Linked DNA regions of Homo sapiens: region 1 is linked to region 2. Evidence: fine-mapped expression QTL. A gene starts in region 2. The other region holds a variant in brackets. All regions are shown on one strand. Distances are from middle to middle. Region 1 overlaps EXD2 (exonuclease 3'-5' domain containing 2). Region 2 holds the start of EXD2 (exonuclease 3'-5' domain containing 2).

Evidence for each region. PIP is the estimated chance that this variant, and not a neighbour inherited with it, causes the effect.
Region 1: its variant is fine-mapped to the expression of EXD2 in blood mononuclear cells (TOPMed, PIP above 0.99).

The regions. Positions count from the first base shown.
Region 1 is chr14:69,237,891-69,253,699 of GRCh38, reverse strand. It overlaps EXD2 (exonuclease 3'-5' domain containing 2), which reads right to left. Exons shown (of 10, transcript NM_001193360.2): 9 at 15,769-15,809; 10 at 9,682-12,816. The coding sequence ends at 12,600. All of the region lies in intron 2 of GALNT16-AS1 (GALNT16 and EXD2 antisense RNA 1), which reads left to right. Among named protein-coding and RNA genes, the nearest start is that of GALNT16, 14 kb to the left of the region's middle. RefSeq lists an enhancer at 14,354-14,978. The variant T/G (reference allele first, on the strand shown) is at 9,621.
Region 2 is chr14:69,185,399-69,201,207 of GRCh38, reverse strand. It overlaps EXD2 (exonuclease 3'-5' domain containing 2), which reads right to left and starts at 9,710. Exons shown (of 10, transcript NM_001193360.2): 1 at 9,617-9,710. GALNT16-AS1 (GALNT16 and EXD2 antisense RNA 1) reads left to right here. Exons shown (of 4, transcript NR_184249.1): 3 at 5,007-5,168. RefSeq lists a silencer at 9,300-9,489.

The sequences.
Region 1 (15,809 bases), 52 kb before region 2:
CTGGACCCAGTCTCTTAGGAATACTCATTGCTTTATCGGGAAACCCAGGATGGACCCCTTGACCTAGGGTTTGAATAAAATTTGTCTCCATATCAAAAAGGTCAGGTGACAAGACCAAAGAGAATTTGAAGAGAGATCCATAGTCCTGGTCCTGCATTTCCTTCAGTTTAATGGTGCTTATAATTGATATCTCCATTTTCCTTGTGAAACTGGGAAGTAGAAATTAAAGCAATGTTCCCAGGATTGGTACATATTTTGAAGCTCTCAGCAAGGCTGAAAATATCCATCGATATATTTTGAAGTGTAATTTCTACTCCCTTACCAGTCAAAATAATTGAACGGGAAGAAAAAGCTGTTAATGCAGGAGGCATATAACATCAGATCTACATTGCCTGGAAATTTACCATTTCAAAGCAATTGAAGGCTTTTACAGCCAATGTTTACAGTCCTACATGTCCCCTTCTCACTGAAGCCACCCTCTGAAGCCATCAAAAGGCCCATCAGTCTGGCTTGGACACTGAAATTGCTCACAGTGTCTGGAGCTGATGCCAAAACAGGGAGGATTTTAAAATATCATCCTGCCATTTTATCAGCGTGTAAATTTTATGGAGTTTCCTCCTGGTAGGTGGTAGGAAACAGCTGGGGCTGTCTATCAGTGCTCATGGAGCCAGTGGTGGCAGAGCTCCATGGTGGCATGGCCAGGCACATCCTCCCCACGCACAGCTTGTCTTCTTAGTTGTCCAGTCTAAGTTGACATTTATCCCTTTTGCCCAACAAGAAAATACCTGCCCAGTGACAGTAAGCCAGAGGGCTGCAAGTTTTTTGGCAGAGGGATGGCGCTATGCTGCCTCTCACAGCCTCTGCCTGGACCCTGAATCTCAGCCCGGAGCCCAGCAGGACAGACAGACAATAGACTTTGCCGGCAGCCATCTTCTGTCTTCTGCCAGTACTTGTGTATGGGTGGGTGGGCGGGTGCATGTGTGCACAGGCTCTGTTTTCAATTGGAATTTGACTTCAGGCTTTTCCTGGAATTACTAATTTCTTTCCTCCTATTTGTGTCCACCGGAGAAAATTTCTAAATCCATGTCTGATCACTTGTCTTTCCTTCCACCTCTGAATCACTTATCTTTACAAAGACCACTACCTAAAGATGGAGCACGCAGTATTTTCTTGGGCAACTGGGACAACTGGGAGATGGGAAACCTGGGTTTTAGAAATGACACTTCAGAATATATCGATGGATATCTTCAGCCATACTGACAGCTTCAAGATACATACCAATTCCAGGAACACTGCTTTAATTTCCACTTCAGTAGCTGATATGCTGTCAGCTAGCATGGTGACCCTGGAAAAGTCACTTATCTGGGCCTCTTCCTCATGTTTATGGGGAGGGCTTTGGGAAAAAAAGGAAGGAAGAAAAAGAAAAGAAGAGAAAAGAAAAAAGAAAAGAAGAAAGAAAAAAGTACTTGGAAGGTCCTTTCAAGTGCTAGCATTTTAGAATTCTATTTACTTGTTTTAATGTTTTAAACCATTCCCTGCCTCAGCAAGAATGATGGGCAATCAACTAGGATACAATTTTCTTTATTATCATTTGATCCCCCCCTCTACATCTTACACACACACAGACATACACACACACACACACACACACACACACACATCCCAACAACTGAAAATAGTCCATTTGTTCAAGAATCTGGAAACTTCTGGATTACAGCAGACTAAAAAAGGAGAAATTGGAAGAATGTACAAGAAATTGGTACATCTGGGGATGCCTCTGAGGAGGGGAGTTTGAGGGGAGCATGAGTAGGAGAGAGACCTTCATTGTATACCCTTTGTGCCTTTTCAATTTTTTTTACCTCTTTACCTAAAATTCTTTTCCAGCAAGAAAAAAGTTTTCCTTCCTCTTTCTTCTACCTCAGGCCTCTCTGCAGCTCAGTGCCTAGGGGAAGAGGAGCCCAGTGACTGAGCTGGAGTCACACGCTGGAAGCTGCCTTCAGACCAGACCCTCCCTAAGGGTCCCTCTCTAGCCAGGCTGGCCAACAGCCTTGCTCCCCCGGCTGCCCCATGGGCCTGGAGGGGTTCTGTGGGTGCACACCCGCTGCTGGCTACCCCTGCCGCCGGCACTCATCTGAGCTGTCGAGCTGTGTAGGGATTCCATTCAGAGTGCTCCAGTAAGGGACTGGCCCCATAGCTCCAGCAGCAGATGGGCAAAGAGGCCTAAGAATTCAGCAAAAGGGGAAGTACATCCAGCCTTAAATTCTCCAGGCTGTGCCATCCCCTTTCAAATGCAGACTGCCTTTGTTTGTTTTCTACTACTAATATAACATGAGGACAGGCTCATAAAAAATAATAAAAGGGCAAGAGATGAGTAGGAGACAGGGTCCTCACAGATCCCTTTGTTCCTGGCCTTATCCCCAAACTGCTTGCCTCCATGTGGCAGAGCTGAGCTGCAGGGTCTCTGGCAGGGTCCCACTGCCCTGGTCTCCCCAGTGCCTGCTCCTCATCAACTTTCCCTCATGACATCCAGCCTCCACCTGACCTTCCTCTTTTGATTCTAACCTTTAATGGGTGCTGGCCCATCACTTGTGTGTCCTATGTTCTCTATGCCCCTCCTCAGATTTCTGATCCCCCCCATTACCTGTTTCACCGACTTATGGCACTGCCACACTGCCAAGAATAGCCATCATCACTGAGGTCTGCTTCCTAGTCTGGAGCTCTCACTTGCCCCACAACCGAGATTGTTCGAGGTAGGAGCCTCTACCGTCCATTCACATACCCCATACCCTACATCTTTCCAGAATCAACACAGCCAATCTCCCCTTAGCAAGTAAAAAATATTCATGTCCTTCCTTTGTATGACCCCTTACTGGGAATCCAGAGATCATGATGCTTAGGTCTTGTAAGTGGTCTCCGTGGATAGGGTGGGAAGAGGCCACATTGGTCTTCTGAAGTCCTAACTCTCTTTGCTAAAAGATACTCTTTTGAAAATGGCTCTGCACGCTGCCCATGCTCAATCTGGGGTGTCCTGGCTGTGCTGGAGCACTGACTGCTGACCTCACATTGCAGGCCCCAGTGTTTGCCACTGCAATGAGCAGCCTCTCCTGCCTCCCCAGCTGCACACAGGCCCAGGTGGGGCTGGGCTGTCCCCAAGCAGGCCACGGGAAGGTGGAGGCAAGAAGATCATCGGGAAGCCATGACAGTCAGACAAGCAGCAGCAGATGGGGATGTGCACTGGGTGGAGTGGACAAATAGCACGAGGAAAATCAGCTTTGGGGACAGAAAAAGCCAAGTGGGAAGTGTAATAAATACTAAAACCAGAAAAGCCTGAAGACAGTCCATCTAGGGAGCAGCAGGAGGATGGCTAACATCACTGGAGTTTAGGTCGAAGGGGAGGACAGCAGGAGGGGTCGAGGTGGTCAGTATTCCAGGGGCTAGGGACAAGAGAAATGGCACAACATAAGTCTCTCGGGAAGGGTCACTCACCTTCCAAGCTGTTGGACTCATTGGCTGCCACAAGAAGAATCTATTTAAAACACACCAGGCATTTTGCCTCATTCTGTTTCCCTGCCCAGAAAAGGCTGGAGCCGAAGGCTGAGGGAGAGGGAAGGATTCCAGCATCAGGACCCTGCATGGATGACATGGCTGAGACCATTCAGGATGGGGAAGATCCCTGCTCCATCCTGAATGACCCACACTTACATCCCCCACCCCCACCTAAGCTGCCAGGCCACTAAACTCCTCGCATATTGAACACAGTCCCAAAGGCAGCTTGTGGTACCATTTCCACTGGGAAATACTCAATGGCTTCCTTCATCCTGTTTTCAAGCTTGTCAGAAAGCAGATGCTGCTCAAATCTGACAGCTGCTCTTAAGGGCACGCTCAAAGGGCACTCCCTGACCAGTGGGAATATTCTTAATGATGACTGAGAGGCCTTGGGTGTTTAGACTATGGCAAGACAAAGGAGCGAGCATGAAAGGGCATCAAGGGTAAAATGGCCCTAGGGAAACCATACGGGACTTGAATTGGAAAACACCAACAGCCTCGCTCCTTTCTCTGGACTGTGTATCTTTGGGAAGTTCTAATTTGGAGAAGACCTGACTCCTTATCCACCTGCCACAGAGAAAGTATTAATAAAATATGAGGCTAGGGTCTATGAGAAGTGGCCCAGGAAAGCCATCTATGCAAATTTTGTTTCCTTCCTACTTGAGAGGGTTGGGGATGAGAGGTCCTTCCTTCCCTGGCTCATAAGCCCATGAGTTGTGTAAAACACTGTTCAAGAAGGCAGAATATAAGCCCTCTGTTGTGCATGATATTCATATTCTTGAAAGAATTAGTGTATAAATCAAATTTTACCTGCCAGAGAAGCTGGCTTTTCAAAATAAATTTGAAGTCAATCCTATGTTTAAACAGAAGGATGGCTTGTAAAGGTGAATAACCATCCTAGGTCACAATTTGCAAATTGGGAACTCTGAATGTCTGACTTGGATGGTGGGGCAGGGGGTTCTGTCTAGAGATTAATCTATGGTTTGCTTTTAGGTTGCAACTAAGCATTACTTTAAAACAAACAAAAGACTGAGTTTTTAAAGAACATTTTTAATGGAAAATTTCAAATATATATATATATATATATAGAGAGAGAGGGGGCCCACTATGATAAACACACAGCTTCAGTGATTCTCAACCCATGGCCAATCCTGTGAGAAACATGAACTTTTGAACCAGCTGACAGATATAGAGGATGAACTTCGTGGTACAGAACAAAAAGAAGTAGTCCTACTCAGGCTGCAGTATCCAAAACGTTTCTGCATAAATGCCCTAAACTAGAGCCTAAAGTGTGAAACAAAGGGGTGGAGAATATTATTGGTTCGCGACCAAATAAGAAACCTGGGAATTAAAACACAAAACAAAACCACACACACATACAATCTCTCTGAGGGATGCAAATTAATAGTAACACTGGTTGCCTTCAAGGAGGGCAGAAAGACTGGAGCGATTTTCATTATATGTTTTTTAAAAATTTTATACTATGTGCACATTTTACCTATTTTTAAAAATTAACTTACTAAAAACAAACATGAAGCTTTGCAATAACCAAATCCACTAGATGTGACAAAAGGGAAAACTGTCTGGACTCAATATATAAGAGGACTTATATTCTGCCTTACTGAACAGTGTTTTACACAACTCATGGGCTTATGAGCCAGGGAAGGACGGACCTCTCATCCCCAACCCTCTCAAGTAGGAAGGAAACAAAATTTGCATGGATGGCTTTCCTGGGCCACTTCTCCTACACCCTAGCCTTATATTCTATTAATACTTTCTCTGTGGCAGGTGGATCTTCATCACATTTTGATCTGGATTTACTGTTTTATAGTAATTTTCTCAGCTAGAAGAATGCACAACCTTCCAATCCCAAAACGTACATCATTAGAATAGGTGCTTCACAAAATATTAAAAACACCAGCCCCTGGTGGTTATATGGATATATGCATTTGTCAAAATTCATTGAGTTGTATTCTTAGATGTGTGCACTTTATCATATGTTACTTATACTGCACTTTAATAAAGTATTGCTAAAAACAAAACAAAAAATCACAGTCCTTGTGGACAAATAAGCCAAAAAATCACCACTTAGAGGTTTGTTGGGTTGGTGGTTCAGAGAAAGCTGCTGTTATGAGGAAACATTATGTGGACTTTTTGCAAAAACTTACTCTTTGGAAACCACCACTACAGCATGTGCTTTTGGTTAAGCATTCCATGGCTGAAACGCAACTCTATGCTGAAATGCCGAGAGGATGAGGCAAAATCTTGGCCAAGGTCAAGTTCTGTTGATGGTCTGAGAGGGGGATGGCAGCCAAGTGCTCTGCACTTGTATAACATTTAAAAAAGAAAAACTAACCTAAGTCATCTTCTGTTCCTTTTTGTAGCCAACTTTAGTCCTGCTCATTGTGTCCAAGAACTCAGAGGCAGCCATATGTGCAACAGCTCAGGCTTACCAAACCTCCAGGGCCAAACATACATATCGTGATTAAAAAGAAACGAAGCCAGCCAACAGGGCTTTAGTTGATTCCATGGGATATAAGGAGAAATTTCAGAATTTTAGATAAAGTTAGGGTCCATCGAGGAGAGGGCAGAGAAATGTAGTTGAGCTTCCTGTTTGGCTAGCTGCCTACTTTTTCTGAAACAAACAACAAAAGGACCCCAATTTGGTAAAAGCAGGGGCTCATGTCTAGATCTAGGTGATTATTGTGGAAAGAGCTCCAAGATGAACACATTTGATACAAATCTGTGTTACACAATGAAAAGCCAATCCACTTTGGGACTGAAACTAAGCACAAGGATGGACTAGAAATTGTATTTTCTGTCAGGTCATAGGGGATGGAGATATAGAAAGAAATGTCTTCAGCAGCTTATAAAATGCAAACTTTACATTTTGCACATGTCTGTCTAGCTGATGCCCAGGCAAAGGCAAAGGCAAGCAGGACAAAGTCCAAGGCATGTCAGGGTTATACAAAACAGGCTCCGGAGATGCTTCCCTGTCTCCCTGTGAGTTCTTCATGTCTTAGCACTCATGGATGGGTAAGAACACGTTAACAGTGTGGACGCCTCCAATATTCTTGGGCTGTTACAACCCCACACACAAAACACAGAAAGAGTATTTTTACTTATTGGTTTAAGGTTTTTTTTTCAAAGTACCCAATTCAATTCTCCATTACATACATATATACATACATATATGTGTGTATATATACATATGTATATATACACACATATATACGTATATATGTATATATACGTGTGTGTGTGTATATATATATAAAATCTTAATTTCTTTATCCTTAAAATGAGAAACAGTCTTTCCCCACTCAATATCCTCCCATCTACAACACCTGGCACACTTGCCTCATTTCCCTTTTACACTTATCTCCTATTAAATCCTAGAGCACTGGCAATGTGGTTAAACATACAGATTTCCCTTCTCTCTTTCTGATTATTCAGTGGACTGGGCGATAGGGAAATGTGAGCTCCCCACACACAGACATCTCTGGTGAGACAGGTATTCTGACACCAGATGGAGAGAGCAGGCTTCTCCCTAGTCAATGAGGCCATGGTGTGGCATCCTGCTTCCCTCATTACCCTTCTTTCCATGCAGTCTCCATTCCCAGCGCTGGGGGTGGGACGAGAGTGTGCAACAAAGCAGAAAGTACACAGTACTCAAGGGAAAGGGCCACATAAGGAAACAGTGGGGTGGATTACAGAATGCTACAGCTAGGAGGGCCCTTACAGCACATCTAATTCAAACCTCTATAGATACAGAAAGGAGCCCAGAAAAGTGATCTGTCCAAAGGCACACAGCTGGTGGCTGGAACCAGAACCTCAGTCACCAGCACACTTTTTTTTGATCCTCCAATACATGACAGAACTAGGTATAGGAAAGAGCAAAATTTAAAGTTCAGTTCATGAACAAGCCCCCAGCCTACCCCATCCCCACTAAACAAACATACCTCCTTTAAAATTATCCATGTTTCAGTCTCATTCCTTTTCAGCCCCCTGTAGCTGACTAAGCTCAAAATTCTGTTTCTTACCCAGGACTTAATAGATACCCTGGTGGCCTGAGTGGCCAGAATCTCAACTCCGCCCTGGCGTGCTGCAGCCTGAGAAGGGAGATCTTTAGGAAGCAGAAGTAGGGGCCGGGTGCGATGGCTCACGCCTGTAATCCCAGCACTTTGGGAGGCTGAGGCGGGCGGATCACCTAAGGTCAGGAGTTCGAGACCAGCCTGACCAACATGGTGAAACCACGTCTCTACTAAAAATACAAGAATTAGCCAGGTGCGGTGGTGCACGCCTGTAACCCCAGCTACTTGGGAGGCTGAAGCAGGAGACTCGCTTAAATCCAGGAGGCAGAGTTTGCAGGGAGCCAAGATTGCATCACTGCACTCCAGCCTGGATGACATGAGCAAAACTCTGTCTCAAAAAAAAAAAAAAAACAAAAAAAAAAGCAGCAGCAGCAGAAGCAGATTCTAAGTAGCCATTTCAACTCAGGAATTTTCTGAACCCAAACATCATGCTTATAATAATGCTGCCTGTAAACTCGGCAGCTTTTGAAGCTTATGCTGGGAGAAAGGCAACAGGCTACCCATCCAGCAAGAGAGAAAAATTCAAGAATAACAAATAGCAAAAAGCAAATGCTTTGAGTTCAGTCTGGAGGGTATGACATTATCTCCATTCAGTCACAACACAAAATGACCTTTGAGGCAGCCTGCACCACATCAGAAGGGGGTACAACCCAGGATGCATGAACTAGGTCCTTTGACAACTCTGTTCCTCTGCAAAGGCAGTTCTTGATTATCTCTCAAATGATTAACCATTTGGTCCAGTTACCCAGTTTCTAGGGGCCTTCAACCAGAGTTGGCCACAGATAAAGCTGGTTAAAAAAAAAATGGTCTAATGTACTTCCCACCTTTCTAAATAACATGCTAGCATTTAAGCAAGGCCTTGCTTCCTCAAGCAAAGGGAGTGACTAATACGTCTCCTAGCAGGCTGGTGGAATCGGTACTTTTGAACACATGGGCTGTGTGGCTGCACGTCATCCCTACTCCATTGCCTGATGCAAAACTACTCCAGGACTGGGACAGGCAGAAGGTGCTGGGCTCTTGCACAAGGGGTATCTTGGTGAATGCCTGAAAATTATACCTGAATTCCAAAACAAAAGTATTTGGGGGACTGAGCACAGTGGCTCATACCTGTAATCCCAGTACTTTGGGAGCTAAGGTGAGAGGACGGCTTGAGGCCAGGAGTTTGAGACCAGCTTGTGCAACAAAGCATGACTCTATCTCTACAAAAAAATTAAAAAATTAGCCAGGCATGGTGCCACAAGGCTGTAGTCCCAGCTACTTGGGAAGCTGAGATGGGAGGATTGCCTGAGCCCTGGAGGTTGAAGCAGCAGTGAGCCATGACTGCACCACTGCACTCCAGTCTGGAGTGAGACCATGTCAAAAAAAAAAAAAAAAAAAAAGTACTGGGGAGATTATGTATTATTTTTATGTTATTCATATCAATCAACAGTTAATCAAAACAAGAATCATTCTTATACCCTCTTTTAGTTTATCTCTTCCAACAGAAACTGATTCTCAGTGTATCCCTAAGGGGATTAGGTACTCTCAAAAAATAACCATCTTATAATAGGAAACATAAAAGACCAGAAAGAAAGATCCATTTAAAATACATAATAATTAGTAAACTAGCAAACTGAGAAAATATCTCCTTTAAAAGAAAAAATGATACTTCTTATAAGGCTGAGACATAAGGAAGGGGAAAAAAAGGAAGAAAGGATAAATAAATGAATGAAAAATTGAGAGGCAGGGTAAACTAAGAACTTAACTTACAGTCAAATGTTAGGGCCCCAAACTAATAGGCGAATAGGAAGGTGAACAAAACCTCTTTCTGCCTGCTGGATTCTTAAGAGTCTAAAATGCATGATTAAAATGGCTTTATTTCAACAGAACACATTTTGTCATCTGATCTCTATCCGTGACATGGATAAGAATAAGTAACTTATGGCTGTGCTCTTAAGCGTAAGCCGTAACAAATCCCTGAATATTGTGCCTCATTCACTT[T/G]GGGATGGCAAATCACTAATTGTTTGTGTAGCAGGGAAAAAACATCTGCCTACAGCCTATATTTTAAAATTTAAAATTTTATTTTTTTACCTTTTTTTTACATTTTTATTTTAAAATAAACAGTGTTTCCAAAAAACATTGACTACAAGGGGGAAATGAGGCAATAAGGTTGGAAGAAGGGAAGGACTCAAGAAGAAATGCTGAACCTGCAAACACAATGATCAGGGAGCATGCAGAGAGGCCCTTGCTGTGACACTGTCCTCTCACTGCTACTCCTATGAAGCCCAGTGACTATGCTGGGACACTGGAGCTAAAGGGTCAAAGAGAAGCATTTCATTCCTAAAAGGTGATGTCAATTTGTACTTAGCCCCAGCAATGTGAATCCCCCTCTTCACAGTCCAATTCTAAGATTCCATTCTTAAGAAATTACCAAAGATAGAGCCAAAGAGATATATACAAGAAACTTTATCACATCATCATTGATAATAAAAGTATCTGAAACAACCAAAATTTTCAACAGTGTGGGGATGGATAAGGTAGAACCACTAGAAATCTATTTTCAAAGATTTAAAAACATAGGAAGTTACTCGTGATACCATGTTAATCAGTGAGAGGGTAAAGTTAGGATACCAACCTGTATCTATGTATGACCTTCAATTTTGTGTAAATATACACCTTATATGCACTTTTTAATACTGAAAGGAAATTCATAAACATATCAGCAAAGTTTAGCTCTGTTTTAGATGGAGAGAAGATGGCTAATTTTTATTCTTTGTTTAGATTCTTCTGTAATGAGCATTGTTACTTTTATATCAGAAAAATAGACATTTGCCATAAAATAAGTCTACCCTCAAATCTCTGATTTAAGACGACAATTGTCAGTCTTAGGAAAAGCCTGCTAAAGTTCAAAGCAGACTCAAAGAAAAAAGATTCAAATCTACACAGTGACTCTCTCCTGAAAAGGATGAGAAATCTTGTGTGACGCAGTCTGGCTTTTTCCTCTACTTTGCTGCTGGCTCTATTTTACTGCGCCTCACAGAAAGCTCCATGGGAAAACCCTTTCCCTAGCACCTTAAATGACCTTAAGTGTTTCTCACCTCTTGGCATGAGGATTAGAAGGAAAGAAAATGAAACAGCCCTACTCCCTTGTTTCAAAGGAAAAATTTTTCTTGCAAAGCTATCAAAATGACTTAAAATCAGCTATGCAAAATTTGAAACATAAGTCATGAGTTACGTTCAGTAACCAGTTGCTTTTTTCTCAAGAATGAATATAAAAACAAATCTATGAGTGCCCTCTTGTGGCAAGCCTGACTATTACCACAACCCAAGTACCAGCCTCTCCCTGTCTATTTCCACGGCTCTCCTCCACTCCTGGGCTCCGCATAACACAGCCAGGAGGCAGAGACCCCATAATAACCCACTACAGTGAATGCACATTCCTCAAAGTGGCTGGTACTATTTGTTTTCAAGGATTTCTAGTTTAGATCCCAGAAATGCCTGCCTGAAGACAAGTGGGAATGAAGGGTCAGAAGAGCAAGATGCAGGATGTGCACGTGGGTTCATGGGCTGCTACTGATGGCCGATGGTGACTGTGTCTGGTATATCCATGCACACATACCATGGCACTGCCAGGAGGCAGGGACCTGTAGGATAAATAGCCCCTCCCCTAGGAATGCCAGTTTTATAAAGTCGCGAAGTTTTACATTTACATCCAGTGAGCCTTGTGCTTACAAGTAGTTTTATTATTAATTTTAGAGTAAACATCACCAACTTGGGCACAATTCCAAAATAGAGCTCTTGTTGGATTCTGGTCATAAAATTCTTTTTTAAGCTTGTTAAGATCTTATAAAATAAGAAAGTTTTCCCAATACTTTAGAAAAATTACTAATCATTAATAAGTCGATTTTATACTCAAAGTAATGGCCTAACATTTTGAAAGATGAAACAACGCTCCTCTTTTGAACATCTAATGTATTAAGTAAGCTCAGTGTCCCAGGCTTCAGAGGAGACAGAGAAGTCCTCATATTGCAACCTGACCAGATGACTCTGGGAGTGAATTAAATGCTTAAAAGAGGTCAGTCTTGCAAATTCGATGAAGCACAGAATACAGGGGAACTGATACTGATTCTGATAAAAGATAACATTACTCTCAGAAAGGGGTGAAGCTAAAAATCTTGCAGTTCTGGGGCAGGAGGAGTGCAACAAGCAGGCAACAAACAGCATGAAAGGAAAAGCTGAGTGAATTTCAAAGTTCTATTGGGAGATGGAGTTTGTGGTTCTTTCTGCCCCACCCAGGTCAAAGGCTCATGTCCAGAAAAGGATTTCTCCCAGTGATAGGGTGGAAGTGTGTGGCAGGAAGTTGCTGTTTGGTCCTGGAAGTGTAAAGGAAAGCCTTTTCAAGTACGTGAAGTAGACTGAAGTGACCCAGATGGGATGGATCCCAACCACATGAGTTACGGGAGAGCATGAAGCCAAAGAAATGATAATTATGAAGTTGAATTGGGAAAATAAATTTGACTCCTTGTTCACTTCTCCAGCCTTTGGAAGAACTTTTTCTCCCCTCCTAACAGGACCGATATACTGGACAGCCCCTGTTAGAGATAAACCGAGGCACTAGACAAGGAAGAAATGCATTAAAAACATTTTTTTTAAGTCTTGACAAGTCACTTCTGGGAGAATTCTTCATTTTTCCTCTGCACAGGGACAGCAGAAGAGGGAGAGTAAAAATAAAGGCGAAGGCCTCTCTTGTCCACAAAAATGAGAGGAAAAAAGACCCTGCCCGTTTAAAATCCAAAACCATAAACTCTCCTTCAAACAATATCTTTGCTCCAGCAGAAGCATCCTGGGATTAGTCTAGGTTAGTATTCTGAGTTGTGTCACACAGGCTTTGACAATTAATGATGTACTAAAATGGGAAGAGGTGACTCTTCAACCTTGGCTCCAGCTTCCCACTTGTCCTAACTGGGAGGAAAGCAGCTATCAAGACAGCTGGATGGGAAGATCTTCCCCGAATTTCCGGAGCAGCTTCTGATGGTTGTGGTCCACTGACCACTGCTGGGGCAGGTGCTTGGGCTGCATGGAGTCCAGGAAGTGCTGACGCCAGCGGCTCTCCAGCTGCATGAGGGAGCGCAGGCCACCCTGGCTGTGACACTGCACCACCTTCAGCCCGTGAGGAACATAGTTTTCATTGGAGATTCTGCCAAAACATGAAAAACAAAGTGTCTGAGGGAAACAAGCGCAGGATGGCCTCACAGACAGCTTCAAATGCTGCGCGCCAAGGGTAACTGGGGAGGTTGAAGGACTCCTAAAGGGTTAGTTACTTTGGTGTTTTCGAAACATCCTCTTTCTTATCTCTGCCCTTTTTATAGTCTGAACATACGACTCGCAATCCCAACAGAAGGTATTTGAGGGTTCTGAGCTCTACTGACAGGAAGGCCACTTCATAATGTTCAGCTCCCACGAGAGGGGCACTACCATCCAGCTGATAATGGATGAAGAATGCTGGTCTTCCATTTCTTCCAGGATTACCCAGTGACCAGTTCACCCCTCTTTTAAGTTGTTCATTCTGGGACACAGTATTTATATGAGGCTGTTAAATCGGCCCGCATGTTACACTTTTTCACAACACAATTTAATAACTGAATGTCAAATGCAAGGTAGCATATTTCTTTAGAGCCTTTTTTCTCACAAAAAGATGCCAAGCCACAGTGGTGAGAAGTGTTTCGGTCACAGTGAAATGCTTCCATGGTTGCTCAGTTGTGCAAATGGTGCCATTAAATGAGAAGATGAATGCCTCCCTCCTTCCTAACTAAGCAGAGTCCTTAAAAAACTGCTCCGATGCTGTGTGAATGGTGCTTTCACCTCCTGTGAATAAAGATGACCTTCCTCAAGGAAGCACCCTGCCCACACACACTCTCCTCTCCCTACATCCATACCCCATGTTCAATCCTCCCTCCCAAGACACCCGCCACCCCAGCAGTGTTGGCGTCTCTGGGTATCTGCAGACACTTTATTATTAATATTTAGCTCATGCGCTTCCCACTAACTTGCCTGTCTCCAAACAACTGTTCTTCTCAGTCACAAGTCCAGCATTCATCTACCCAATTCAGCAAGATGAATTTGTTAGAAAAGTCTGTGGCCGAAAGGGGAGGTTTAGCTGCTTTAGAAAACATATTGGCAGCTGGGCGTGGTGGCTCATGCCTGTAATCCCAGCACTTTGGGAGGCCAAAGCAGGAGGATCACTTGAGGTCAGGAGTTCGAGACCAGCCTGACCAACGAGGTGAAACCCTGCCTCTACTAAAAATACAAAAATTAGCCGTGTGTGGTGGCACACACTTGTAATCCCAGCTACTTACAAAACAACATCTATTCTACAACCTCACAAAATAGTTATGGGGATAAAATTCTATAATTCTTTTAAAACCCTGAAAGATTTTTTAAATTTAAGATATAGTAGCAGTTAACCAGTAAGAAATCTAAATCCTACTTTGTCGGGTTGTCATGAGAAACAATTAAGGCAATTTATGTGAAGTTTATTAGCTGGTTTGCTGCAAGATATAGTATATCTATAAATAACTGTTCAATAAATATTTGCAGTATCTGTAATGGATCAGTAGTAATGGATAAGAGTAAAAAAATTTTTGTTTTCTAAAAAAATTAAATATTTGCTTATAATTGGAGTTACTTTTTTATTTTTCAGTTAACAAAAACCAGCATCACGCTCAAGGTTTTGTGAACTTATCAGTTCCCTTATTTCAACTCCTGGTCCTGTTGGAAAAAGTGACAGTTGGGAGGCAGAACTGCGCATGGTAGCCCAGAGCTCTTACCATCTGAGCCACGTGCCCATTCATTTCTCATTTCAGAATACTGCATTGTGTCACAAGAATTCAACTATGTACTCATGGAGAAGGAGGGAGAAAGCAAGGAAGGAAAAAAGAGAAAAGTAATTTACATAGTAACAGCAATTCTGCTCAACATTCCATTCAGTGAGCCGATACCCTGGAGTGCAGGTGAGATAGGAACCATGAATTCATTAGTCACAGTTCTCACAGACCTGTATAAAGTCGGAGACACAAAACCACACATAGAATTGGCCCTCCATCTTTGTGGGTTCTGCATCTGTGGATTCAAACCTCAGATCAAAATGATTTGGGGCCAGGCACAGTGGTTCATGCCTGTAATCCCAGTTCTTCCAAGGCAGGTGGATTGCTTGAGGTCAGGAATCTGAGACCAGCCTGGGCAGCCTGGTGAAACCCCATCTCTACAAAAAATACAAAGATTAGCTGGGTGTGGTGGTGCATGCTTGTAGTCCCAGCTACTTGGGAGGCTGAGGTGAGAGGATCACTTGAGCCTGGGAGGTGGAAGTTACAGTGAGCCAAGATAGTGCCACTGCACTCCAGCCTGGGTGACAGAGCCATATACTATCTCAAAAAAACAAAACAAAAAAACCACAAAACTATTTGGAAAAAAAAAAAAAAAAACTATCTGTACTATCTGTACCAAACATGTACAAACTTTTTTCTCATTACTTCATAAACAATAAAATATAAAAGCTACTTACATAGCATTTGCATTGTATTAGGTATTATAAGTAATTTACAGGTTATTTAAAGTATACAGGAGGATGTGTGCAGGATATATGCAAATACTATGCCATTGTATATCAGGCACTTAAGCATTGGTGGATTTTAGTATCCAAGGGAGGTCCTGGAACCAATCCCCCATGGATACTGAGGGGTGAATGTACTGTATCTCATGGGGAACTTCAGAACTTCGAGGGTGTTATTGGACTATTATTTCATCTCATGTGCTGGCATGAGGATTTACGTCTGCATAGAATGTGTAAGATGCAGCTCCACCACAACTGCACTCGCACGCTAATCACAAAAATGACCGAAATTAAGTGTATGATCTTTAAAAAGGTCAAAGATAGGCACCTCACAAAAGCAAGTTTCCTATGGAAAGGAACTCCTCAAGTAGATTGTTCTATTCCACTTCCAAGGTATCTTAAACTACTAGACACCTACTAGGTGAAGCATGAGGCTAGGCACTGTGCCTAAGCAGCCAATGCCCCCTCCCTGGCAAGCATTCTCACTAAGTAATGAGGGTTAATGTCCCTGGTACATTCCACAATTCCTGTGCTTTGTACCTGGTCTCCAGGCTGGCAGCCTCTTGAAGCATCTCCTCTGT
Region 2 (15,809 bases):
CAAAAACAAAAACAAACAAAAAAAACCAACGTAAGATGTATTATACATGTAAAATATACACCAAATTTTTGAATACTTACTACAAAAAAAGGATGTAAACTTTTTATAATTTCCATACTGATTTTTTTTTTTTGAGATGGAGTTTTGCTCTTGTCACTCCGGCTGGAGTGCAATGGCACGATCTCAGCTCACTGCAACTTCTGCCTCCCGAGTTCAAGCAATTCTCCTGCCTCAGCCTCCCAAGTAGCTAGGACTACAGATGCCCGCCACCACACCCGGTTAATTTTTGTATTTTTAGTAGACACGGGGTTTTACCATGTTGGCCAGGCTGGTCTCGAACTCCTGACCTCAGGTGATCCACCCACCTCGGCCTCCCAAAGTGCTGAGATTACAGGCGTGAGCCACCACGCCTGGCCTCATACTGATTTTTATGGTGACTTCTTTATCGTGGTAAAATATATATAACATAACATTTACCATTTTAGCCTTTTTTTTTTTGGAGACAAGGTCTGGCTCTATCGCAAAGGCTGGAGTGCAGTGGCGCGATCTTGGCTCACTGCAACCTCCACCTCCTGAGCTCAAGCCATCCTCCCATCTTAGCCTCCCAAGTAGCTGGGACTACAGGTAGTCCCCACGATGCCTGGGTAATTTTTTTTTTGTATTATTTTTGTAGAGATGGGGTTTCACAATGTTGCCCGGGCTGGTCTCAGATTCGTGAGCTCAAGCGATCCCCTAGACTCGGCCTCCCAAAGTGCTGGGATTACAGGCCTGAGCCACCACGCCTGGCCCATTTTAGCCATTTTTAAGTGTACAATTCAATGACAATAAGTACATTCACACTGCTGTGCAACCATCACCATCACCCATTTCCAGAACAACTTCATCCTTGCAAATAGAAACTGTAATTCAACAAGAATTCCCATTCTCTTCTAACCCCTGATAAGCCCTATTATACCTTCTATCACTATGAATTCCATATTGATTTTTTAATATTTATGTTGAAATAATGCTTGGAATATACTGGGTTCAATATAGTCATGTGCTGTATAACAATGTTTCGGTCAACAACAGATGACACATACAATAGTTCTACAAAATTATAAGATTACAATGGTGCAGAAAAATTCCTATTGCCTAGTGACATCATAGCCATCCTAACCGTCCTAACGTTGCTGCACAATGCGTTACTCACAAATGTGTGTAATTATGCTGGAGTTAACGAACCTACAGCACAGCCAGTCGTATAAAAGTATAGCACATGCAATTATGTATAGCACATACCTGATAACGACAATAAACGACTATGTTACTGGTTTATTTATTTACCATATTTTTTATTTTACGGTGTACTCCTTCTACTTATAAAAAAAATTAACTGTAAAGCAACCTCAGGCAGCTCCTTCCGAAGTTATTCCAGAAGGCATTGTTATCATAGATACAGCTCCATGCCTGTTATTGCCCCTGAAGACTTTCCAGTGGGACAAGATGTGGAGGTGGAAGACAGTGATATTGATGATCCTGACTCTGTGTATGTCTAAGCTAACATGAATGTATGTGTTTGTGTCTTAGTTTTTAACAAAAAAGTTTAAAAAGGTAAAAAAAAAAAAATTTTAAGTTGAAAAGAGCTTATAAAGAGATAAACATTTTTATACAGCTGTACAACATATTTGTGTCTTAAGCTGAGTGTTATTACAAGTCAAAAAGTTAAAACAATTAAAAAGTTTATAAAATAAAAAAGTTATAGTAAACTAAGGTTAACTTATTATTCCAAAAAAATTTTAAATAATTTGAGTGTAGCCTAAATACACACGTGTTTATAAGATCTAAAGTAGTGTACAGTCACGTCCTAAGCCTTCACATTCACCCACCACTCACTCACAGGTTCACCCAGAGCAACTTCCAGTCCTGCAAGCTCCATGCATGGTAGATACCCTACATAAGTGTAACACTATTTATCTTTTCTTGAGACGGAGTCTCACTCTGTTGCCCAGGCTGGTGTGCAGTGGCGTGATCTCGGCTCACTGCAAACTCTGCCTCCCAAGTTCAAGCGATTCTCCTGCCTCAGCCTCCTGAGTAGCCGGGGCTACAGGCGTGTGCCACCACACAAGACTATTTTTTAAATTTTTAGTAGAGACGGGGTTTCACCATGTTGGCCAGGCTGGTCTCGAACTCCTGACCTCAGGTGATCTGCCCGCCTCAGCCTCCCAAAGTACTGGGATTATAGGCGTGAGCCTCCATGCCCGGCCCACTGTTTAGCTTTTATACCACATTTTTACTGTACTTTTATGTTTAGGTATGTTTAGATACACAAATACTTACCACTGTGTTACAACTGCCTACAGGACTCAGTACAATAACATGCCATATAGGTCTATAGCCTAGGAGTAATAAGCTATACCATACAGCCTAGGTGTGTAGTCAGCTATTCCATCTAGGTTCGTGTAAGTGTGCTCTATCGTGTTCACAAAATGACACATTTCACAGAACAGATCCTCATTAAGTGATGCCATTACTACAGTTCACCTTGTTTCTTTTTATATCTTTAATGTGGCTACTAGAAAATTTTAAATTGGGGCTCACATTCTACTTCTAATGGACACTACTGTGCTAAAATATAATGTGCAAGTAAGGAAATAGAGATGATGCTGGAATGAGTAGATACAGGACAAGTCATGAGGGGCCATCATTATCCTACAGGACACTGGAGAGCAAATAACAGACTTATAAGGAGAGTGACAGGATGAGACCACCATGGTACTAATGTGGGTGCTAGCCTGGAGGAGAGCAAGGCCGTAGGCAGAGAGACCTGTTAGAAGCTCATAAAGCAGAGCGGAGAGGCAAAGAATACTCGAATTATGGCAGAGGAATGTAGAATGAAAAAGAACCACAGCTCCTGAACAGAATGACTGCATCACAACCACCTGGAAAAACAACAAAGTCATCAACCAACTTTTAGAAATTATATGGTAATTCAGAAAGTCTGATGAGTATAAAATCAATAGCTTTCCAAACCTATTATAAAAATGTGAAAAAAGAAATCTCATTCATAATAGCAATATACCTGTATACTATTTTAAAACTACATAAAAAAACCACATAATCACATACACAAGTCTAGGAAAGAATTCAACAAGAAATGTGTCAGATCAATACAAAGAGGAACAGAAAACTTTAGTGAAGATCTAGAAGAAGACCAGAAGAGTGGAGATGTATGATAGCAGCTGTCAAACAGGACCAATCATGTGCCAGGCACTTTACATGTACATATATACTCATATTAAAGTATTCATTTAATCCTTTCAATAACCCTATGTGGGAGGTACTATAATTATCCTATTTTTGATAAGAAGAAAAGATTGTTTTATAGAAATACTCAAAATAATATGTAAATTCAATACAAACTTCATTTTAAAAAACTTTTTAAAAGAATGAATTGACTGTGTGCAGATGAGAAAAATGGATGCAGCAACATGGATCAGCTGGAGGCCACGACCTGAGTGAATTAATGCAGGAACAGAAAACCAAATACTGCGTGTTCTCACTTGTAAGTGCAGCTAAACACCCAGTACACATGGACATAAAGACGGGAACAACAGACACTGGGGACTACCAGAGGGGAGGGGAAGACAGGGAAGGGGGCCGCAGGCTGAAAAACGACCTATACCCAATACCTGAGTGAAGGACTCATCCATACCCCAAACTCCAGCATAACATGTTACCCATGTAACAAACCTGCACATGTACCACCCTGAATTTAAAATAAAAGTTGAAATTATAAAAAAAAAAGAATGAATCAACCATCGAGACAGCGAAAAGACAACCCACAGAATGGGAAAAAATATTTACAAATCATATATTTGGGAAGGGTGTGTATCTAGAATACACAAAAATCTCTTACCACCAAATAATAAAAAGACAGACCAATTTAAAAACTGGCTAAGAATCTGAATAGGTATTTCTGTTCTTTATTTTTTAATATATTTTTTAGAGACGAGATCTGGCTCTGTTGCCCAGGCTGCAGTGCAGTGATGCAATCACAGCTCACGACAGCCTCAAACTCCTGGGCTCAAGTGATCCTTCTGCCTCAGCCTCTTGACTACAAGTGTGCTAACTGAACAGACAAGTCCAGCTAACTGAATAGACATTTCCTGATAGAGGGTATACAAATGGCCAATAAGCACTTGAAAAGATGTTCAATATCATGAGCTGTTAGGGAAATGCAAATCCAAACCACAATCAGATACCACTTTACACCAAGTAGGATGGTTCTATTCAAAAAAACAAATAAGGCCAAGTATGGTGGTGCACACCTGTAATTCCAGCACTCTGATCCAAGGTGGGAGGATCACTTGACGCCAGGAATTTGAGACTAGCCTGGGCAACATAGTGAGACCCTGCCTCAAAAAAAAAAAAAATTAATTGGCCAGGAGTGGTAGTGTGCCTATAGACTTAGCTACTTGGGAGGCTGAGGCAGGAGGATTGCTTGAGTTCAGGAGTTTGAGGCTGCAGTAAGCTTTGATCACTCCACTGCACTCCAGCCTGGTCAACAGAGTAAGACCCTGTCTCTCAAAAAAAAAAAAAAAAAGTGCTGGCAATAATGTGGAGAAATTAGAAATCTCATGCATTGTTGGTGGGAATGTCAAATGGTACAGCTGCTCTGGAACACAGTCTGGCAGTTATATAACCTAGCAATGCCACTGGCAGGTATATACCCAAGGGAAATGAAAACACATGTCCGTACTAAAGTTCATAGCTATTCATAATAGCCCAAAAGTGGAAACAACTCAAATGTCAATTAGTTGATGAACAGATAAATAAAATGTAGCATATCCGTATGTTATGAGTTGAATCGTATTCCCCAAAAAGATATGTTGAAGGTCTAACCCCCAGGACCTGTGAATGTGACCTTATTTGAAAATAGGGTCTTCGCAGATGTAATCAAGTTAACATGAGGTCATACTGAAGTAGGGTGCGCCCTTAATCAACTATGACTTGTGTCCTTACAGGAGGAGGAGAAGAAACAGGCTTACGCTGAGCGAATCCAATGTGCAGACAGACACACAGGGAAGGTGACCATTTGAAGACGGAGGCAGAAACTGAAGTTGTGCAACTGCAAACCAAGAAATGCCATGGATTGCCAACAACCACCAGGAACTAGAAGAGGCAAGGTAGGATTCTCCCCTAGAGCCTTCAGGAAGAGCACAACCCTGCTGACACCTTAATTTTGAACTTCTAGCTTCCTTAACTGCGAGAGAATAAACCTCTGTTGTTTTAAGTCAGCAGTTTGTGTTACTTTGACCACAGCCCTACAAAATAAATATACCACAGGATGAAATTTCATTCAGTAATAAAAAGAATGAAGTACTGAAACATGCTATAGCATGGAAGAATCTTCAGTACATTATCCTAAGTTAAAGCAGTCAGTCACAAAAGACTACACATTGTATGATTCCTTTTACACAAAACACCCAGATCTCGAAAGACAGAAATATTAGTGGTTGCCTAGGGCTGGGGTCTCAGGGGAGTCAGGGATAGGGACTGACTTCTAATTGGTATGGGTTTCTTTTTGGGGTGATAAAAATGTTCTAAAATTAGACTACGGTGATGTTTGCACGACTCTATGAATATACTAAAATCATTAAATTGTACACTTTGAAGAATTGTATGGTGTGTGAATTACTTCTCAATAAAGCCATTAAAAAATGATTTGGAGCTGCGTGTGGTGGTTCACACCTGTAATCCCAGCATTTTGGAAGGCCAAGGCGGGTGAGTCACTTGAACCCAGGAGTTCAAGACCAGCCTGCGCAGCATGGTGAAACTTCATCTCTATAAACAATACAAAAATTAGCCAGTGTGGTGGTACACACCTGTAGTCCCAGCTACTTGGGGGGCTGAGGCAGGAGGATCACTCGAGCCCAGGAGGTCAAGGCTGCCACTGCACTCCAGCTGAGTGACAGAGTGAGACCTCATCTCTCTTTTTTTTTTTTTTTTGAGACAGAGTCTCGCTCTGTTACTCAGGCTGGAGTGCAGTGGTGCAATTTCAGCTCACTGCAACCTCTGCCTTCTGGGTTCAAGTGATTTTCCTGCCTCAGCCTCCTGAGTAGCTGGGATTACAGGCGCACACCATCACGCCCGGCTAATTTTTGTATTTTTAGTAGAGACTGGGTTTCACCATGTTGGTCAGGCTGGTCTCAAACTCTTGACCTGGTGATCCGCCCGTCTCAACCACCCAAAGTGCTGGGATTACAGGCGTAAGCCACCGCGCCCGGCTCCCATCTCTTAAAAGAAAAAAATAATTGACAAGTTGACTGTAAAATTAATCTGGAAAAGAAACTAATAATAACCAAAAATATTGTTTTTTAAATGAGAGTACATGAGCTGATATAGTATATGACTTCCAATAAAATAATAATCATGATGGAGTATTTACCCTATTAATGTCAACATATAACATATAGTTTAATATAGGATGTTGTGGTATTGGTCCAGCAAAATAGAAAAGTATGCCATAGAACAGAAGACAGTCTAGAAACAGATCCTGTATGATAAATGAGCACATGAGGCCAGGCGAGGTGGCTCATGTCCATAATTCCAGAACTTTGGGAGGCTGATGGGGGAGAATCTCCTGAGGCCAGGAGTTTGAGACCAGCCTGAACAACATAGCAAAAACTCATCTCTATCTCTACAAATAAAAATTAAAAAGAAAAAAAAGAAATTAGTACATGGTAAGTGTGGCATTTCGGATTAATGGTTCAAGAATGGACTGACTAGGCCGGGCGCGGTGGCTCACACCTGTAATCCCAGCACTTTGGGAGGCCGAGGCAGGTGGATCACGAGGTCAGGAGATCGAGACCATCCTAGCAAACACGGTGAAACCCCATCTCTACTAAAAATACAAAAAATTAGCCAAGCGAGGTGGTGGGCGCCTGTAGTCCCAGCTACTTGGGAGGCTGAGGCAGGAGAATGGCATGAACTCGGGAGGCAGAGGTTGCAGTGAGCTGAGATCGCGCCACTGCACTCCAGCCTGGGCGACACAGCGAGACTCTGACTCAAAAAAAAAAAAAAGAATGGACTGACTGTTCGAGGTGACAGTATTTGGAAAACAACAATCACACACACACAATTCCAGAGGAATTAAAGAAAAAAAACTATTCCCACAAGAAGAACTTCAAGGAGAAAACAGAGCTTTAGGAGAAAACCCTCCTCTCTCTAAAAGTAGAGAAGGATTTTTCAACTTCAGCACAACTGACATTTTTGGCTGGTGAAATTCTTTGTTGTGGGAAGCTTTCCCGTGCGCTGTAGGATGTTTAGCAGCACCCTCGCTTTTACTCACTAGATAACCAATAGCAGCACCATCCTAGTGGAACAAACAAAAAATGTTTACAGACATTGCCAAATAACCCCGAGAGCAAAAATCTCTGCCATTTAAGAACCACTCGGATTGGGAATGATAGCCACAAAATACAAACACACACATAACAGACTGATAAATTAAAACCTAAAATTTTAAACTTTGTTTCAACAAAGATGCCATATAGTTAAAAGACAAGCAACAACTTAAAAAAGCAATAAGCAGGGAGTAAATATTATAAACACATATGAATAACAAAAGATCAAAATCCAGAACATATAAAATACTATTATAAATCAATAAGGAAAAGACAATCCAATAGAAAGAGATGTTTCTCAAAAGAGGAAATACAAATGGCTGACAATCATGAAGATGTTCAATCTCAATAGTAATCAGGGGAATGCAAATTAAAACAGCAAAGAGAAATCACTTTTCCATCCATCAGATTGGCAAAAACAAAAAAGATCGATACCATTAAATGATCAAAAGAGCATGGTGGGCCAGACACGGTGGCTCACGCCTGTAATCCCATCACTTCGGGAGGCCAAGGCAGGCGGATCACTCGAGTTTAGGAGTTTGAGACCAGCCTGGCAAATACGGTGAAACCCCGTCTCTACTAAAAATACAAAAATTAGCCAGGCGTGGTAGCGGGTGCCTGTAATACCAGCTACTCGGGAGGCTGAGGCAGGAGAATCGCTTGAACCTGGGAGGCAGAGGCTGCAGTGAGCTGAGATCACGCCACTGCACTCCAACCTGGGCAACAGAGCAAGACTCTGTCTCAAAAAAAAAAAAAAAAGAGAGAGAGAATGGAGGAAATTATTATCCACCGTGGGTGGCAGTTTGGCATTCCTAAATCCCCATACTCTCCCACCCAGCAATTCCACCTGCAGGTACCCATCCTTGAGAAATGCTCTCACATGGGCTCTCACAGAGGTGTGTGGGAAGGATGTTCTCCGCCATACTGTGTCTAACAATGAAAAACTGGAAACAATCTATGGAATCTTACATAACCATGGAATTTACAGAGCAAGTAGAAAGAATAGGTAGATCTCTAGGTACTGACAAAGAAAAAATTCCAAGACCCGTTTTTAAGCATAAAACGTCAAGTTGTGTAATGCATAAAACATGCATATTTGTAAAAGTTTAAAGCGAAATCTTACAAACATATATCTTATACGTACACATACTTGTCAAATAAATGCAAAGAAAAATACACACAAACTGACAACAGTTCTTATTTTGTGGGAAAGGGACTGGTAAAGAAGGTGGAGATGGAAAAAAACAAAATCAAAGAGGATCTGTCTTCCACACTCCCCACCCTCACCACCAAGAACATCAAGCTAAGAAAGATCTGTGTTTAAAATTTTTACATAATTTTGTTACAAGGCTTTATGCACGGACTATAACTAGAATATTTTAAAAATACATTTTTAAAACAAGCTCAACTTGACCAAATTTAATCCATCTTCCCCGCTGCGCCCCAACCCGCACTTCCTAATTCCTATGATTAACAAAACCTTTCAATTCCTTCTATCCTTGGAACAGAACTAAGAAAATAAAGTATAATTTCAATTTTGTGTTTTTGAGGAGAGGGTATATAAAGGAGTTTGAATGTTGGAATCATATCAAAAGCTTATCGGGGGATTGGTTTGTTTGTATTTTAAGGAGCAGATGTCAATTTTGTAATAAATAATGATTAAGGTTCTTAGTTTTGATCCATCCCAGGGATGTGAAAAGCCAAAGAGGTGGCTCCCGGCAAGGCCCAGAGCAGGGTGTGGTCTGGGAGGACAGGGATGGTAGCGAGGGTGGCGGCTCACACGAATCCAGGAGAGAAAACAGCAGCTGTTGCCGCGTCGAACCCGCAGCGCCCGAGGAGCTACCAGGTGCCGCGGGCGGGGCCTCCTTTTTAGCTGACTGGGACACGCAGCCTCGAAGGTCTGGTAGAGTCTCCCAGGGAGAGGGTAAGGGGGTCGAAAGGAGAGGCCCAAGGAGGGCGTGGGAGGCCGCGGGCAGGGGTGAGGCCCTCCTTGCGCACCTGGGTGCTGAACCGCCCCGCCGTGTGCGACGGGGGCGAGGGGGTCACGCCGAGGGGCGGGGAGAGGGGCAGGGCCAACTCGCTCCGGGACAGCGGGGGCCCCGCAATGTCACCCCCGTACACGGTAATATCCCCCCGCTCCACGACCCCTCTTAGTCTGCACTGGAAGCACCCCCTGCCCCGCGCACAATCCTGGTGCAAGGCTTCGCCGGCTTCTGAGCCTCACTTACCTGCTGTCTCGGACTGGGCCGCACACCTGCAGCGGGCTCACGTTAAAGACCTGGAACCTGTGCGGCCGCCTGCGCGCACCCACCCGGATTCACTAGGGCCGTAACCACTTCCGTTCCTGCGACAGGCCTGGAGGACGTAATCCCAGCTGGCGTGTGGGAACGGGCAACGCCATTTTGTACGGAAGCTACTGGGGCAGGTGATGCCTACCCAGTCTCTCTCCTCTGTTGAACAAAGGATCTGTTAAAATTGGAAGGGCTTAACGTCTTCTTCAGAAAAGTGACGCATTTGTTACTGGGATGGTATGTTTGTGTTTTGGTTTTGGCTTTGAAGGGAGAAACCTCCAGAACTCTCACAAATGTAATATGGGACATCGAATTTTCCTTCTTTAGTATCCTGCGTACTGTTTTTCTGCTAAACGATAACAGTAAATAGAAGGAAAGACACTGTATTTAAATAATGTAGTCTTCATTAGCAGTGCACATTATCCTATAGCCACTATAATAATTTTATGTACCCTCCTTTTTTTTTTTTTTTTTTTTTTTTGTAGATACTGTCTCCCTACATTGCCTAGGCTGGTCTCGAACTCCTGGGCTCAAGCGAACCTCACAACTCGGCCTCCCAAAGTGCTGGGATTACAGGCGTGAATGCCCAACCTATGCCATCTTTTATAGCGATAACCACAATACTTTTTGTTTATATATTAAATCGTTCATCCAATCAGTCTTTATTAGCAATTATATGTGAGGCAGTTAATCTGTGCTACATGCATGCTTTTCCTTTCTCATGGAATGTGTAAAACAGAAGGAGAAATGAGATGTGCATAAATAACCAATATAAGGTATAATAATAGCTACCATTTGTTGACTTTGTGCTCACCTGTTGCTAGGAACTTTGCAAAGCATTTTACTTATTTTTTCTCCTTTAATCCCCATAACAACCCTGTGAGGCAGTACTATTATTAGTGCCGTTTTACATAAAATAGAAAAAGGTTAAATAACTTCCTCAAGGTAATTCAGCAAGTAAGCACCGGAGTTAGGAATCAAACCTCATATTTCTGATTGCAGAGCATGTGGCCCCATCCTTTATACTATATTGCCTTCAATACAGGGGCAAATGTTTTAAATTCCATTGAATGAGTACCCATGGGGGAAATTTCCAGCTATTATAGAGGATTAACTCCCTGAATTTTTATCTGCTCCATCTTGAAACACTTAAAAAACAAAGGATAAAGAGGAAATGCAAATTAAAACCACAATGAGATATAGCTAAATGAAAAAGAAAATGTCAAGTATTGGCAAGATTGTGGAGCAACCACAACTCTCATATGCTCCTGAAGGGAACATAAATTGATGCAATCACTTTGTTTAACTGTTTGGCGGTATCAACTGAATCTGAATATGTGAAAAGACTTTGTTCCAACAATTTCACCCCTAGCTGGGGCACAGTGGCTCAACGTGTCATCCCAGCACTTTAGGGATTTTCACTGTGTTGCCCAGGCTGGTCTTGAACTCCTGGCCTCAAGCGATCCTCCCACCTCGGCCTCCCAAAGTGCTGGGCATCATGGTGTGCACCTGTAGTCCCAGCTACTCCAGAAGCTTAGGCAGGAGGACGTCTTGATCCCTGGAGTTTGAGGCTGCAGTGAGTTGTGATCACACCACTGCAGTCCAGCATAGGTGACAGAGCTAGACCCTGTCTCGAAAACAAAAACAACAAAAAACAATTTTACTCCTAGTTATATATATGCAACTGAAATGTCTGCATGTATTCACCAAAAGGACATGTACAAAAAAAAGCTCATACCCATACTTTCAACAGCCCCAAACGGGAAACTACCCAAATATCCCTGCTATTAGAAGTCACTGTATATAATGATTAATCTTAGGGTAGTAATAACTGGAAGGGAACATGAGGAGGTTCACGAAGTGCTGATAATGTTCTATTTCTTAATCTGAGTGCGGCTTTACATGTGTGTTCAGGTTATATTTGTGAGCACTTTTCTGGTTTCATATATACTTCGATAAAAGGGTTTTTAAAAATGATAGTAAAGGAGTGAAAAGTTTGTTAACCCAAAGAAGAAAGAACAGGAAAGGACATAGTACCAAACTAAAAAAAAAGATACAATTTTAAAAGATAGAAATTAGATTAGAATGGCAGATACATTGTATGCTTGTATCAAAATATCTCATGTACCCCATAAATATGTACATCTACTGTGTGCCCACAAAAATTAATAATTAAAAACAAAAAGAATAGCAGAATATTGACATTTGGAGGATTTCATAAAGAACTGTCTGGGTTCACAAGCAATCACTCTACATTAAGGCCCAGTCAACAAGACTCATCTGTGCATACAGAATTTCTAATCAGCTTTTAAAATACAGTTTCTCACTTTTAAATATGAGAAGACATCCAAGAATCACCAGTCATTATGGGAATGTCTGACATAATTAATTAACCTTTTCTAAGGAGCATGTATAGAACTATGTAAAGAACCCTCCATTCCTGAGGAAGACAAAGAAAAGAACTATGTCCTCAACGATGTGAAAACACAAATTGTTCTCAAATATACTTTTCACATTTACAGGGAAGATTTAAGAAAATTAATTTTGATTTAGGCCATTGATTATCTAACTGGTTGCTGTTTTTAAAATCAAATAATTTTTAAAAATGTAGGCTATTGAGCAACTTTTTACAAATTGCAAAAAATTGCTATCATACAGATCACATTCTCTGACTACATTGCAATTAAGTTAGAAATCAATCATGAAGCTGGGTGCGGTGGCTCATGCCTGTAATCCCAGCAGTTTGGGAGGCTGAGGCAGGAGGATCACCTGAGGTCAGGAGTTCAAGACCAGCCTGGCCAACACGGTGAAACCCTGTCTCTACTAAAAATACAAAAATTAGCCAGGCACAGTGGCCGATGCCTGTAAACCCAGCTACTTGGGAGACTGAGGCAGGAGAACTGCTTGAACTGGGGAAACGGAGGTTGCAGTAAGCCGAGATCGTGCCAATGCATTCCAGCATGGGCAACAGAGCGAGGCTCCATCAAAAAAAAAAAAAAGAGAGAGAGAGAGAACGAAAGAGAGAGAAAGAAAGAGGGAGAGAGGGAAGAAGGAAGGAAGGAAGGGAGGAAGGAAGGAAGGAAGGAAGGGAAAGAAAGGATTATTTTTAAAACTCCGTGTACTTGGAAATTACGTCTGTAATCCCAGCACTTTGAGAGACTTAGGCATGTGGATCACTTGAGCCTAGGAGTTTGAGACCACTCTGGGCAACATGGCAAAACTCCACCTCTACCCAAAATACGAAAATTAGCTGGGTGTGGTGGCACACACCTGTGGTCCCAGCTACTCGGGAGGCAGTTGTGGGAGGATCGCTTGAGTCTTGGGGGCGGAGGTTAAACAATGGCTAAAATCCAAAACACTGCCAACACCAAATTCTGCTAAGGATGTGGAGCAACAGGAACTCTCATTCATTGCTGTTGGGAATGCAAAATGGTATAGCCACTTCTGAAGACAGTTTGGCAGTTTCCTATAAAGGTAAAGATAGTCTCAGCATGCAATCCAGCAGCCACACCCTTGGGTATTTACCAAAATGAGTTGAAAACTTAGGACCACACATAAACTTGCACATGAATGTTGACAGCAGGTTTATTTATAAGCTGGAAACAACCAAGATGTCTTTCAGTAGGTGAAAGAATAACCAAACTGGTACATCCTTACAATGGAATATTATTCAGAACTAAAAAGAAAGAAGTTATCAAGCTGCAAAAAATAACATGGAGAAACCTTAAATGTATATTGCTAAGTGAAAGAGGTCAGTCTGCCATGGCTACATACCGTATGGTTCCAACAGTATGACATTTTGGAAAAGGCAAAGCTGTAGAGATAGTAAAAAGATCAATGGTTGCCAGGGATTCCAGGGGAGGAGGAAAGGCGGAATAGCTGGAGCAAGGGGATTTTTAGGCCAGTGAAACTATTCTGTGTGATACAGTAATGGTGGATACATGACATTAGGCATTTGTCAAAACGTGTGGAACTGTGCAACATGATGAGTGAACTCTAATGTAAACTATAAACTTTGGCTAATAAGGTATCAATATAATTTTGTAGCAAATGTACAATACCCGTGCAAGATGTCAATAATAGATGAAACTGCAACTGCATGTGGTGAGGGGAGGTATGTGGGAGCTCTCTGCACATTCTGTTCAAATTTTCTGTAAACCTAAAACTGCTCTAGAAATAAAGTCAATTAATTTTTTTTAAAAAAGGTTATTGTGTGAACTATCTAAAATACTTTATTCATTTGTTTATTCATTCCAAGGACAACTTAATGTCAAGCACTGGGCTAGGGATTCATGGGACATCATGTGCAGAAAATTCACGAGGAACTGTGGCCGGAAGTGCTGGTTGCCCACCTAGTATGCATTCTCCCTTTCCACTTAGGGGGCATTAAACAATTGCATTTACAAAATACAATTTTCTGTCTTCATTAGGAGTAGGTGTGGCCATGTGACTAAGTTCTGGCTAATTAGTTATAAGCAAAAGTTTTTGCATGGGACTTTTGGTAATGTTTCTAAAAAGGTGACAGGCTGGGCGCGGTGGCTTATTCCTGTAATCCCAGCACTTTGAAAGTCCAAGGCGGGCGGATCACTTGAGGTCAGGAGTTCAAGACCACCAACATGGTGAAACCCCATCTCTACTAAAAATTCAAAAATTAGCTGGATGTGGTGGCACATACCTGTAATCCAAGCTACTTGGGAAGCTGGAGCATGAGAATCACTTGAACCTGGGAGGCAGAGGTTGCAGTGAGCTGAGATTGCACTACTGCACTCCAGCCTGAGTGACAGAGCGAGAGACTCTGTCTCAAAAAAAAAAAAAAAAAGAAAGAAAGAAAAGAAAAAGGGGATGAAGAGGACAGAGCTGGGTGTGATGGCCCACACCTGTAATCCCAGCACTTTGAGAGGCCAAGACAGGAGGATCACTTGAGCCCAGGAGTTCAAGACCAGGCTGGGCAACATAGGGATACCCCGTTTCTACAAAAGAGTAAAAAATTAGCTGGGCATGGTAGTTTGTGCCTGTAGTCCCAGTTACTTGGAAGGCCAAGGTGGAAGGATTGCTTGAGCCAGGGAGGGCAAGGCTGCCAGTGAGCCATGACTGGGCCACTGCACTCTAGCCTGGTAGACAGAGATTCTGTCTCATAAATAATGAGGGGAGAGACAACTCCCACAAGGCCTCTTTTGCCTTTTGTCATTGCCCTTCCCCTTCTTCCTTGCTTATACTAAGACCTGATAGCTGAATCTCCAACAGTTCTCTGCCATCACAGTGGCAATTTAAAATGAAATCCAGGTGCTTAGGAAGACGGAGTGGAGAGGTAGATGTAGCCTGGATCCCTGATGCCTTCTGTAGTTTCCATACTAACCCTGAGCAACCTACCTCTGAACTTTGAACTTTTTTTTTTTTTTGAGATGGAGTCTCATTCTGTTGCCCAGGCTGGAGTGCAGTAGCACGATATCGGCTCACTGCAACCTCTGCCTCCCAGGTTCAAGTGGTTCTCCTGCCTCACCCTCCTGAGTAGCTAGGACTACAGGTGCATGCCACTCCACCTGGCTAATTTTTTATATTTTTAGTAGAGACGGGGTTTCACCATATTGGCCAGGCTGGTCTCGAACTCCTGACCTCGTGATCCACCTGCCTCGGCCTCCCAAAGTGCTGGGATTACAGGTGTGAGGCACCACACTCAGCCTGTACTTCTTTTACATGGGAAAATAAACCTCTAATTTTCTTAAGCTACTGCAGTCAATGTTACTAGTGGTAGAATCCAATCCCTAACTGATATGGAAAACAAAAGATATTAATGATAAATGCATGCCACACCAGTCAACTAAAACCTATTTAATACAATGCCCAGCACTGAAGATACACAAAAAAGGTAGAAGATAATGATGGAGGTCAAAATTTAGAGGAATCGCTGCCTGATAGACTATTTCTGAAAAATCTTTCCTTCCATTGATTTTTTTTTTTTTAAGAAACAGGGTCTTGCTCTGTTGCCCAGGCTGGATGAAGTATAGTGGCATGATCCTAGTTCACTGCAACCTCAAACTTCTGGGCTGAAGCAATCCTCCCCGCTCAGCCTCTCAAGTAGCTGGGACTGCAGGAGTGCACCACCACACTCAACTAATTTTTTAATTTTTAG